Homo sapiens: one gene and its partners. The protein of the gene in region 1 purifies or fractionates together with the protein of each later gene. This does not show direct contact. Each region holds a gene or a part of one and is shown on either strand. Other genes may lie near its edges.

What was found.
Region 2: the proteins of CD244 (region 1) and CHCHD6 purify together in Homo sapiens (co-immunoprecipitation; 3 studies listed by BioGRID and IntAct, with this or other methods). This does not show direct contact.
Region 3: the proteins of CD244 (region 1) and MTX2 purify together in Homo sapiens (affinity purification with mass spectrometry; 4 studies listed by BioGRID and IntAct, with this or other methods). This does not show direct contact.

Annotation. Positions count from the first base shown.
Region 1 is NC_000001.11:160,835,257-160,839,008, forward strand, and holds part of CD244 (natural killer cell receptor 2B4 isoform 1 precursor), read right to left. Parts: coding exon 3,683-3,752; intron 3,263-3,682; coding exon 3,195-3,262; intron 999-3,194; coding exon 939-998; intron 1-938. UniProt on the Homo sapiens protein: Heterophilic receptor of the signaling lymphocytic activation molecule (SLAM) family; its ligand is CD48.
Region 2 is NC_000003.12:126,952,179-126,955,930, reverse strand, and holds part of CHCHD6 (MICOS complex subunit MIC25), read right to left. Parts: intron 1-3,752. UniProt on the Homo sapiens protein: Component of the MICOS complex, a large protein complex of the mitochondrial inner membrane that plays crucial roles in the maintenance of crista junctions, inner membrane architecture, and formation of contact sites to the outer membrane.
Region 3 is NC_000002.12:176,335,317-176,338,552, forward strand, and holds the end of MTX2 (metaxin-2), read left to right. Parts: intron 1-2,176; coding exon 2,177-2,348; 3' UTR 2,349-2,709; downstream 2,710-3,236. UniProt on the Homo sapiens protein: Involved in transport of proteins into the mitochondrion.

The DNA of each region.
Region 1 (3,752 bases):
TCCCAGAATATAAGAGGTGGAGTATGAGGAGGTGCAATGGAGACTCAGAAACCCTTTGGCTCAGCTCTGCCACTACCTAGCTATGTAGCCTTGAGATATCAGTTGACCTGAGTCTCGGTTTCCTCATTGTGATATGGAATGTAGACCACATCTAAAGTATTAGAACTATTTTCATGAGGCTGTTATGTGAGATTTAGTAAGAAAATACAGCTGGGTGCAGTGGTACACACCTGCAGACCTAGCTACCCAGGAGGCTGAGGTGGGAGGATCACTTGAGGCCGGGAATTCAAGGCTTCAGTAAGCTATGATTCTACCATTGCACTCAGCCTGGTAGACAGAATGAGATCCTGTCTCATAACGGGTATACCAAAAATCTCACAAATCACCACTAAAGAACTGACTCATGACACCAAATGCCACCTGTTCCCAAAAAAACCTATGGAAATAAAAAATAAATAAAGAGACCCTGTCTCTAAACAATAAAATTGTTTTAAAAGAAAAGAAAATGGACATTATTGCTAAGTCATAATAAAATAAAAGAGATCAATGCAGATTCATTCTTTCCTGAAAACGAATATAATAGGGAATAGGGATAAAAAGTGCAAGGGCCCCAAGTATTAGAAGCAGCAGCAGGGCAAGAAAGCAGAAGTTGAGTCCCCTAACCAGGTTTCTGCTCCTATAGACTTTATCTGGGCCAGACCTTCTGCCAGACACGGAAGAAGAAGGAATGTCCACATCAGGCTTCCCAGCTGTGTTAAGATGCTCTAGTATCACACGGATCTTTTCAAATAATGTGTTAATGCAACTGAAGCCAAGCTATCTTCTGGATTCTAGAAGCACCAAGATCTTATTCTGCCATTCAATGGTGTGAGTTTCAGGGGGGCATTAGGAAACCCCAGAGATAGGTATGGAATGGACTAGAGAAACTGGAGAGGTACCTGGGACTGGATCATAGAGTAGATGGTGCTCCCCCCTCCAGGAAAAGTCTGCTCCTGCTCCTGCACAAGAAATGGAGATGGGGTAACATGAGCGACAGTTCGGTCTGTCCAGATTTAGATTGAGTGGGGAAAAACAGCACAAAGAAGAGGGCTTTTCAGGAGACTGGGAGGGAGGTGGCAGGACTGGGGAGAGTCATTGATCCTCCCAAGATGGGAAGAGACAGGAAGAAGAGCAGTTTGGAGTGGAACCATTAGTATCAGGAGCAAGGAACCACCTAGGTGTGAGGGGTTCCAGCAACCCTGCTCAAAGAGAATGCTGTCACTTTCTTTCCTTTAGTAACTTAGAAACCCTTCCTTGCAGAGCTCTGAGTAGGGCTGTTATCTGAGCCTTACCTCAGAGCACTGAAATTCAGAAAGTTTAAACATTTCAAAGACCAAACACAGTTAAGCCCTCTCTAGATCATCTTTGAGGCCACCTTGCCCTTGACCTCAAGTCAGCGCCCTGGGCAGCTATAGTGCTGGGTGCAGCCCTGAACCCAAGGGCCAAAGCAGGAAGCAGAGCTTCCTGCTTCCCTTTTCTTGTTCCTACCCCTTAGGAAATCGGTGGTGGAGGTATTTCATGCTGCCGGCCACTGAAAGCATATTGCCAGTTTGGGTTCTACTGGGAGCCAGTGGAGGCAGCAGGGTTCATTAGGCAAGGTGCAAGCAAAATTCCTGGAAGCAAGAAGAAGCTAAGAGAAGCAGAGAACTGTCAGCTGTCCTTAGAGGCTGGGGAGTCATGGGCATCTGACAATGTCAATAACTTCATTTGTGTTTTAAAATACTGCAGGAGTTTGTTGCTTTTCTCTCCCGTCCAGACCCGTGTGAAGTGTTTCTAGAAAGATTAGAGCTGGGTCTCAAAGTGAGACCACATGAAACTTGAGATTTAGGCCTTCAAATTGGAGCCCTGAGACAATAGGGAGAGGCCAGAGAGGGCTGAGGCCAGGCAGGGAGGAGCTCTTGAGTCGGAAGAAGTAAGCTAATAGGCCTGAATCCCAAAGAGGTTTCCTTTGCTCTAAGTTGTTTTTCCTCCTGTGGTCTCCTAATCTCAAGTCATCTTCTTTTTGGAAAAATAGATTATTTTTAGCAAGCACCCGGGCATCACTGGCTGTGGGTAGATTCACATGCTTTCAGGAATTTGTACCAGAGTCTGGTAGCAGTGAGAGAAACAAAGTCCCCTTTTATTATTCACATTCCAATAGCCACTGCTTTATTTTTCACATTCCCATAGCCACTGCTGGGGCAAAAATAAATAAATAAATAAAGATAAAAATAAAAAAACAGGCATGGGGAGCTGCTCTAACAGCCTCTGAACCCAGAGGCATCTGGGAGAGGATGCTTGCCTGCTCTGCGAGGCTGCACAGGGCCTCACGTATGTGGCCAGCACGGAAGAGCCCCACCACATGTGCTTCCTGCGTGCTGCTGGGTCTCCACAGCAAAGCGCCAGGGGGCAGTGGAAAGAAGGCACTTCCGCCCCACTTCACCCACCCTGCCCCACTTCCTGCCAGCAGTTTGGTAGGCTCCATCAGAGCTTTTCCCCTGGGCCTGTCACCACATCTGCCCTAAGCGAGACACAGCAGTGGGGGCATCTGCAGGCCCTCTGCAATTTCCTCCTCTTCTAATTCTTGGATGACAGGCAGAGTTGGCCCCTGCCTGCTGCGAAGAGCAGGCGAGAGGCTCCTGGAGGAGCCTACTCAGGCTGGTGGGCTTTGTGCCAGGCTGGTTACTCTCTCTAGTACCTCAGCCACACTCAGGCCTCTTCTTCCAAAAGGCTGTGAATGCAGCCTATTGAGCCAGCTACAAAACTATTATGCTTTGGCTGGTCACACTTCCCAGCCTGTGTCACCATTAAGGGACTCATGAATGTAAGCCCTGACTCATTAGGAAAAAGAATTTGTGGTCAGACAACAAATACCACAGCAGCACTCTGCCTCTGTCATTGATTTCTGTTGTGCTCCATCCCTTCTCAGCAGGTGCAATTCTGCACCAAGATGCCCCTTCAGCCTCCCTTTCATCTCCTCTGCTCCTTTTGTTTCCTCTTTTCCTCCATCACCAGAACTAGGAAGCAGGTGGAGAAAAGATAGATGGGGAAGGGCTGAGGGTCACATCAAAAGGACAGTCGTTCAGTCCTTTTTGTCCCTCTGCTCTGAATAACCATCATTGAAAGAGCATTTTCCAAGCCAGCTGAGAGAGACCCCAGCCTCCGGGATGACATACGTGATTTCTCCTGGTTTTCAGATCCTTGACATCTTCGTAAATTGTCAAAAATTCCTTGGGACTGGTCTCTGAGGGAGGAAGAAAACAAAGAGCAGAGCTGCAGAAACCTCCAGAAGGGCTTTTGCTTCTAACAGGTCCCACCTCTACCCCAAATGGCCAAACCTTAAAAAAGGTTCTAGAAAGGAGGCAAGTTAATGCTCTTCCCAGGAACCCCAAAGAGCACAGAGGCAGCAACCGAACTGCCCCTCCCACACCTCCTCCCAAACCAGCTGTCTACAGGGAAATCTGCGCATTGGGATCAGAAGGCATGAACTGGGAGAGAGAGCCTAGCAACCTGCTTGCCCCCCGCCACCACGCACACAAACATACCAAAGCTCGTTGAGGAAAAGGAGATGCTGTGCTCCCAGACACATCCCACTGGACGCAGGACAAAGTCACAGGATCCAAGGCCTCAGGCAGGAGCACCACCCTAAGGACCTTCCACTCACCTGACTGCTTCTCCTTCCTCTTTCTCCTCCACACACAGAAGCAGGCAAGGGTGCCAAGGAACAGTGCGCT
Region 2 (3,752 bases), on another chromosome or scaffold:
CCCTTCTCGTCCATGTCATCCCCAGGCCACTGTATGCAGCGCAGTCCTCTCTGCAGCAGAGGTCAAAGGGAGCAGGGAGGAGCAGGTCTCTCTGCTGTCTCATCTGACTACGCGGGACAATGCTCCCCTCAAACCCCACTCCAGGTTTCTCCTCCACTCACTGTCTAGGACCAGGTCACATACCCATGCCTAACACCATCGCTAACATGAGCAGTGAGTGTCCCATGTTCAGCTAAGGCCAGCAAGACCCATCCCCAGGGCATGAACAAAACGAACAGTCCCTAAATTAAAGACGGGGAGGGATGAGTGTGGGGTGGGGTGCAGCCGCCTGTGACTGCCATGCCACACCAGCGCCAAGGTAAAGGATGTGAAGGGAGAGCACGCCTTCCCCTTCCTGCCAGGGGAGGCCATGGTGGCCCAGCCCTGGCCTGGGTCCTTGAATTCCACCCCATCCTAGCCATTGAGGTCACAATTCTGACTCAAGTCTGCATTGCATGCACCAAGTCTTAAAGGGTCCTCTTATTTCCTGAAGAGGACTGGGTGGGGGGGGTTTTATCTGCATTGACTTCTCGTTCTTACATATGCAGGGCAGATGAGCCCCTGGTGTGCAGTCCTCTGCCCAGCTCCGGAGACCCGCTTCACTGGCCTGCGTCAGCTGCCGCACAGGCGGCTGGGGCAAGAATACAGCTGGGGTGTCTGGGGCAGCCCCTGATTTGTCTCCAGGTGCTTAAGCACGGCTCCACATCTGTATTTAAGAACTGTGACATGGGTGTGTCTAGTTGTGGGCTTTTTAGGCTGCTTCTTCCTTGGGGGACGGCTGGCCTCATGGCATTTCGTCTCAGGCAGGTGTTCTCAGGGACTGCACATACAGCTTTGGTTCTGAGTGTTCTGACACCTGTTTTAGGAGCACTTTCAAGTCACAGGCCAGGCTCTCTGCCTCCATCGCAGAGGCCTCCCCTCCTGTTCTGCTCCCTGAGTCTCCAGCCTTAGAAGGCTGTGCTCTCCCCTCCCCAGGCAGGGTTAAATCTGCAGGGCAGTGGGTGCCTTCAGTGGCACTGCCAGTCTCCCTGGGCTCTCTCTTGTCACCTATACTGCTGTCCCCTCATACCAGCCTCTTGCTGTGTCTTCTGTTCCTCCTGACGGTGCTGGCCCTCTAGAGTCTGAGACCCCAGAGCATGACTTCCATCATAGCCTCTGCTGCACTCCCCTGAAGCAGGACCCCACCCTGCCCTCATGGGGCCCTGGTGAGCCTGGTTCCTGGCTGCACCGTGGAGGCCAGCAGGCACTGAGGGGACCTGTGTGTCATGGTGAGTGGCTCAGGGGAAGCCCCAGGCTTAGTCAGGGCAGAGCTGTCCTAAGCTGTAACTCTGTGAGGCTTACTGATCTATGTGAAAAGAGGTACCATAGACAGGACAGGCGGAGGCTAAGTGGCCCCAGCCTGAGTCATGTGGCTGAGCCTCATGGAGCTGGAGGGCTGACCTGCTGAGCCCTGCCCTCTACAGAGGCACAACAGAGACGCCGACACTTTGCAGAATGGCGATGTGCAGGAAGACACAGCCACATTTGCCCCTCTCCCCATGGTCAGCCTGGCTGTGTCCCCTCCTCACTGGCTTCTCCTACTTTAGTTTCAGGTCCCAGGACAAGGGCCTCTGCATTTTGAGGGCAAACCTCGCAGTGGGCTCCCAGTTTAGGAGAAACTGGGCCATGGCGAAATCTATCCCCTCCTTGCCAGTATCGCCCGTGGGACCATGACAGCCTCTCTCTCCTGGGACTTATCAGAACAATATGAGGAGACAGAATGGAAGGCAAATGTCAACTGGAAGAAATTTCACCCATTTGTCCACAAAAAGGCTCTGAATGGGATAAGACAGGGAGAGCATAGCTCTGGAAATGAAAAGCTTTCTCTGAAGCAAGGCAGGGCTAGGCCTTCGGTGAAGCCATTCACAAAAGTAGGTGCACTCTATCCACCCTGAACCCCTCCCAGCCCTGGCACACCATGACCCTGTTTACAATGCATACAAAACAGCTCCCATGTTCAGAAACATGGTCTTGCAAACAGCTACTCTTCACATGCACAGATAAAGGTATCCAAAGTGTGCCACAAACTTGCCAGGGATAGAAATAAGTCCTGTACCCCTGTGTAAGGACATTTCCTTGGAGAATGAAGATCTAATGGTCCATGTGGCTTCGAAGGGGTTCACACCATTCGCATTGGTGTATGGGGTGTCTGTTTGCACAGGCATCAAAGACAATGCCCAGGAAGTTGGCTCACCTCACTGGCTCTTATGTTCCTCATTGGTACAATGGGAACAGTAACACCGCTTGCCCCATAGAAGAACAGAATTGCATGCTGTGAAGTGCAGCTCTCATAGCAACCTAGCCATCAGTGTGAGAAACCGAGGTGGGGCCAGGGTCTGGAGTGGGGTGAGCTTGCAGAAAGGCTGGGTTACTGGAGGCACTTGGCAGAGAAGAGCTGAGGATATGCTGGGGTGGTGGAACTGCCAACGTAGGGCTTGGAGGGTGGGACCTTACCTTAAAGGGTCCCTCCCTCTACAGCGTAAGCTCTGATATCATTCGAGACCTAGTTCAGACCTCGCCCAGCCTCAGTGGTGCCTCCTCCTCAGGCATGTTAGGGCATTAGCGAGTCTGCATAATCATGGTGTCTCTTCAACAAGGAGCTGGCAGATGTCTGAGGCTGGGACTCTTGGTCTAGTGGAAAGAACACAGGTTCTGGGATCAGACAAACCTGGGGCAAGGCGCTGGCTTTGTCACTTTCCACTGTGTGGTCGGTGCATCAGGTATGGGGGAGGACCCCACCCCACAGAGCTGTTGAGAGGATGGCAGGAGAATGGCAGGTGATGCCCAAGACGGCCCGGTCAGAACATGCTCAGTAACGCAGTGTGGCCCTGAAGGAATCATTGGCATTCAGTAAATAGGACCACAGAAGACCCCACATCCAGCCTCCTGATGGCCCTGAGAATGTGATGGCCACAGACAAGGCACATGGGTCCTGGTCCCTGGCAAGCAGGCCGCATAGGTCTGCCTGACTCCCAGAGCCCCCACCCTGTCGGCTGAGACCACAGACACAGCAGAGTCCAGAGGCCCCATGTGGTTCCTTCCCAACCCCTGTGCCTGAGCGGGCCTCTCCCACTGACCACCTCTCCTGGACCTTCTCCATTCCCCGCACTCCATCCAAAACACATTCATCTCTCAAAATATGGAAAAGCTTTTCAAATCGAAACCCCCTTTTGCCTCCATCTCCGTCCCAGGCCACAGCAGCTTCTCCTTGCTTAGAGAGGTGCTGCCTGGGGCTCCCCCTGCCCCACTCCCCTGGGCCCCATGCCGAGCCTCACTGCTCAGCTGACGGCACCTGCCTGGCCCTCACTGCCTCTCTGGCCACTTACTCTGGTTCTCTTCTGCTGGACCCTGGGCCTCTGCCTGTGTGCGAGCTCCACCTGTGGCCCCTGCCCTTGTCCCCTCAGCACACCAGCATGGTGCCCAGCTCAAGACCTGCTGTCCCCTGCCTGCCATGCAGCCCAGCAGGTGGCCATGGGCCCACATGGACCAGATGTGGCTAGCCCTCATCCCAACATCTCCTCCTCCTGAATTTCAGTTGGGTCGGCAGCACCAACACCCAGCTGGTCCAGCTGCACACCCAGAGCACCCAACTTCTCCAGCCCCCATGCCCACAGAGCACTCCCAAGTCTAGCCTACAGGAGAGCCCTAGCCCATGCCCTTGTTTTCACTGTCAT
Region 3 (3,236 bases), on another chromosome or scaffold:
GAATGGTAGGATATGAGGCTAAAGAGGCAGGCAGAGGCCAGATTATCAAGGCTCTGTGTGCTTAGTGTAAGGAGTTTGGCATTTTAGTATAAGTAGAACAGAAATCCATTAGAATATTTTGTGCTTGGAGTTGGTATGATCTGCTGACATTAGTCATTCTGACCATGGTATGGAGAATGAGTAGAAGCAGTAAGACACTTTAGGAGGCTATCTCAGTGGTCTAGGTGACAGATGATGGTAGGTTACACTGTGAAATCATAATGAAGAATAAGTGGTGGCATTCAGGGCATATTTTGGAGGTAGTGTCTCACCAGACTTGCTAATGGATATAGGAGGGTGAAAGAAAGAACTCAAGAGTAGCCCCTAAATTTTTGGCCTGAACAGCTGGTTGGATAGTGGTGCCTTTTATTTTGGGAAGTTTGGGGGACAAGCAGGTTTGGGATACTGTAAATTACTGCTATTGAGAAAATAAAGTATCCCACACATCTTAGTCAAGATGCTCCACATCCTGCTCCACAGATACTCCACATTGAAGTGGAGATGTTATGTAGGCATTTGAATGTATGAATCCAGAGCTCAGGGGAGACATTAGGACCAGAGATAAATATTTAGGAGTCAGTGGCATCAAGATGGTATTTAAAGCCATGCATCTCTAGGAGACTACTTATCAATAGGGTTCAAGGCCACATAGCTAGTAAGTGATAGTATTGGAGTTCAAATTTGGATTTTTACCAACCCCCAAATTTATTCTGCCAAACCAGATTACTGCAACATATTTTCACATTTATGTAGGCTAGCACATATTTTCTCAAAAACTTTATCACTGTGGGACACAGTAATAATTAGCTCGTAATTATGATGACATTTTCTTGTTTTAGTAATAGTGCATTAGTAATTATTTTAATATAATGTAAATTGGTGATGCCCCATTTATAGATCATTAGTAGTGGGGTAGATTTCATTTTGTTGTTAGTAATATATAATTACAGAGAAAAAAATTCCTAGAAATTTTTATGTTGAAGCCATCCTTATGATTTTGTCTCCTTCAGAAATCTAAGTTACTTTAAATGTGGTAAAATTAAAGTTGTGTCTTGTTGTTGATTTGTGATTGGGTATCATTTTTTTGGTCCTATCACCACAGCGAAATCCTTTGTGCTTTGACAGCATTTTGTTTATGCATCTATTAAAACACTTAATAAATTGTATTTATTAAAACAACTTTATAATTTATGTTTCATGTACATGTCTTAGAGTATTTTTCTTGTTTTTATGTCTAGCATTTGGTATGGTTTCTGGCACATTGGAGATCTGCTATATTTAGTGAGAAAAGTAATGAATTAAATGAATATGATCATTACATCTATATTATTTTAACACACCTAAATGTTGTTACTAAAGAAAGCAAGTCACACAACTAGCAAATCATATTTTTTTTCCATATAGCAGAAACTCCAAGAAAAGTTATATCAAGTTGTGGTAGGATTTGTTTCTTACGTGGCTTTTTTCTTTTAAGTTGATGAATAAAATGATTTTAAAAAACATATCCACGGGGGTCTTTCAAGTATCCACAGGACATTTGTTCCGGGACCCCCACAGATACTAAAATCTGCAGAGTTCAAGTCTCTTATATAAAATGGCATAATTGCTTACGTAAACTTAATGTATTGAGAAAGAAAGAAAAAATGGTGCAGTGTTTGCATGTAATCTATGTACATCCGTATATTTTAAATCATCTTTGGATTACTTATAGTACCCAATACACACAATCTAAATGATATGCAGTAGTGTGATCTCAGCTCACTGCAACCTCCACCTCCCGGGCTTAAGCCATTCTACCACCTCAGCCTCCCGTGTAGCTAGGACTATAGCCAAGCACCACCATGCCTGGCTAATTTTTGTATTTTTTGTAGAGATGAGGTTTTGCCACATTGTTCAGGCTGGTTGTGAATTCCTGAGTTCAAACAGTCCGCCCACCTCAGCCTCCCAAAGTGCTGGGATTACAGGCATGAGCCACCATGCTTGGCCTATATTGTTATTTCTAATCTTTTAAAATATTTTGGATCTGAGGTTAGTTGAACCTACGAGTATGGGACCTGTGGGTGAAGAGGGCCAACTGTGTTTTCTATTGTAAAAGTTAAATGCTACTTACTCACATTACTCTCATTTCTACTTTTAGGCCTACTGAACTTGACGCACTGGTATTTGGCCATCTATACACCATTCTTACCACACAATTGACAAATGATGAACTTTCTGAGAAGGTGAAAAACTATAGCAACCTCCTTGCTTTCTGTAGGAGAATTGAACAGCACTATTTTGAAGATCGTGGTAAAGGCAGGCTGTCATAGAGTTATGTGTTAGTCTCAGGAGTCTTAACTTTTGAAATATGTTTTACTTGAATGTTACATTAGATATTGGTGTCAGAATTTTAAAACCAAATTACTGCTTTTTGAAACCTCAAATTATATAATGTATCTTATGTATGTGCTTTATATTGTTATTTGTGTATACATTAAAATAATTCTGAATTATTTAATCTGATATGTTGTATTCTGTATCTTGAAATTTTTGTTTCCTTGAAACATGCATGCATTTAAAAATAAAGCTTAAACAACTGTATGGATGTTACATTTACTTTCTTTTGATTTTTCTGAAAGTCATTCACTGAATTTTACACATGTGGAATAAACAGTGTCTTTTCTAAGGCAAGTAATTTGTGTTACATACTCCCAAGATTCCCTTGCTAGTTACATGGTGAAGCAGATAATGGGAATAAACGTTCTTAACAAGTGTGCACTTAGAAAATATGGATGGTTTTAAGGTAATTAAATTTTGGTGCAGATTTGACATTTAAGAACATTCTTTATATAGAGACTTAATTAAAAAACATTTCATCAGAGCAGCTGTGATTTACATTTGATAAAGGAAAAGTTTGAGGAACCTTTTTTTTTGAGACAAGAACATTTTAATAATGCTCTTTTATTCCTTTGTGGGGAAGGGAAGATAGTTTTCACAAAAGTATTAACAGGAATTTTTATGTAAACACTAAGGATTATATGTTGTGTCCTTTCCAAATTTTCTCATAGTTTATATCTTATAAAACCAGGGATGCTCTGAAGAGACAGACGTAAAAAATGATTTCTTAAAAATGTCTAGAATAATAGTACTTTTATATTTTCTTTTTATGTACCAGGGAATTTTAACTTATTTAATCCTTATAAAAATAGGATGGCTTT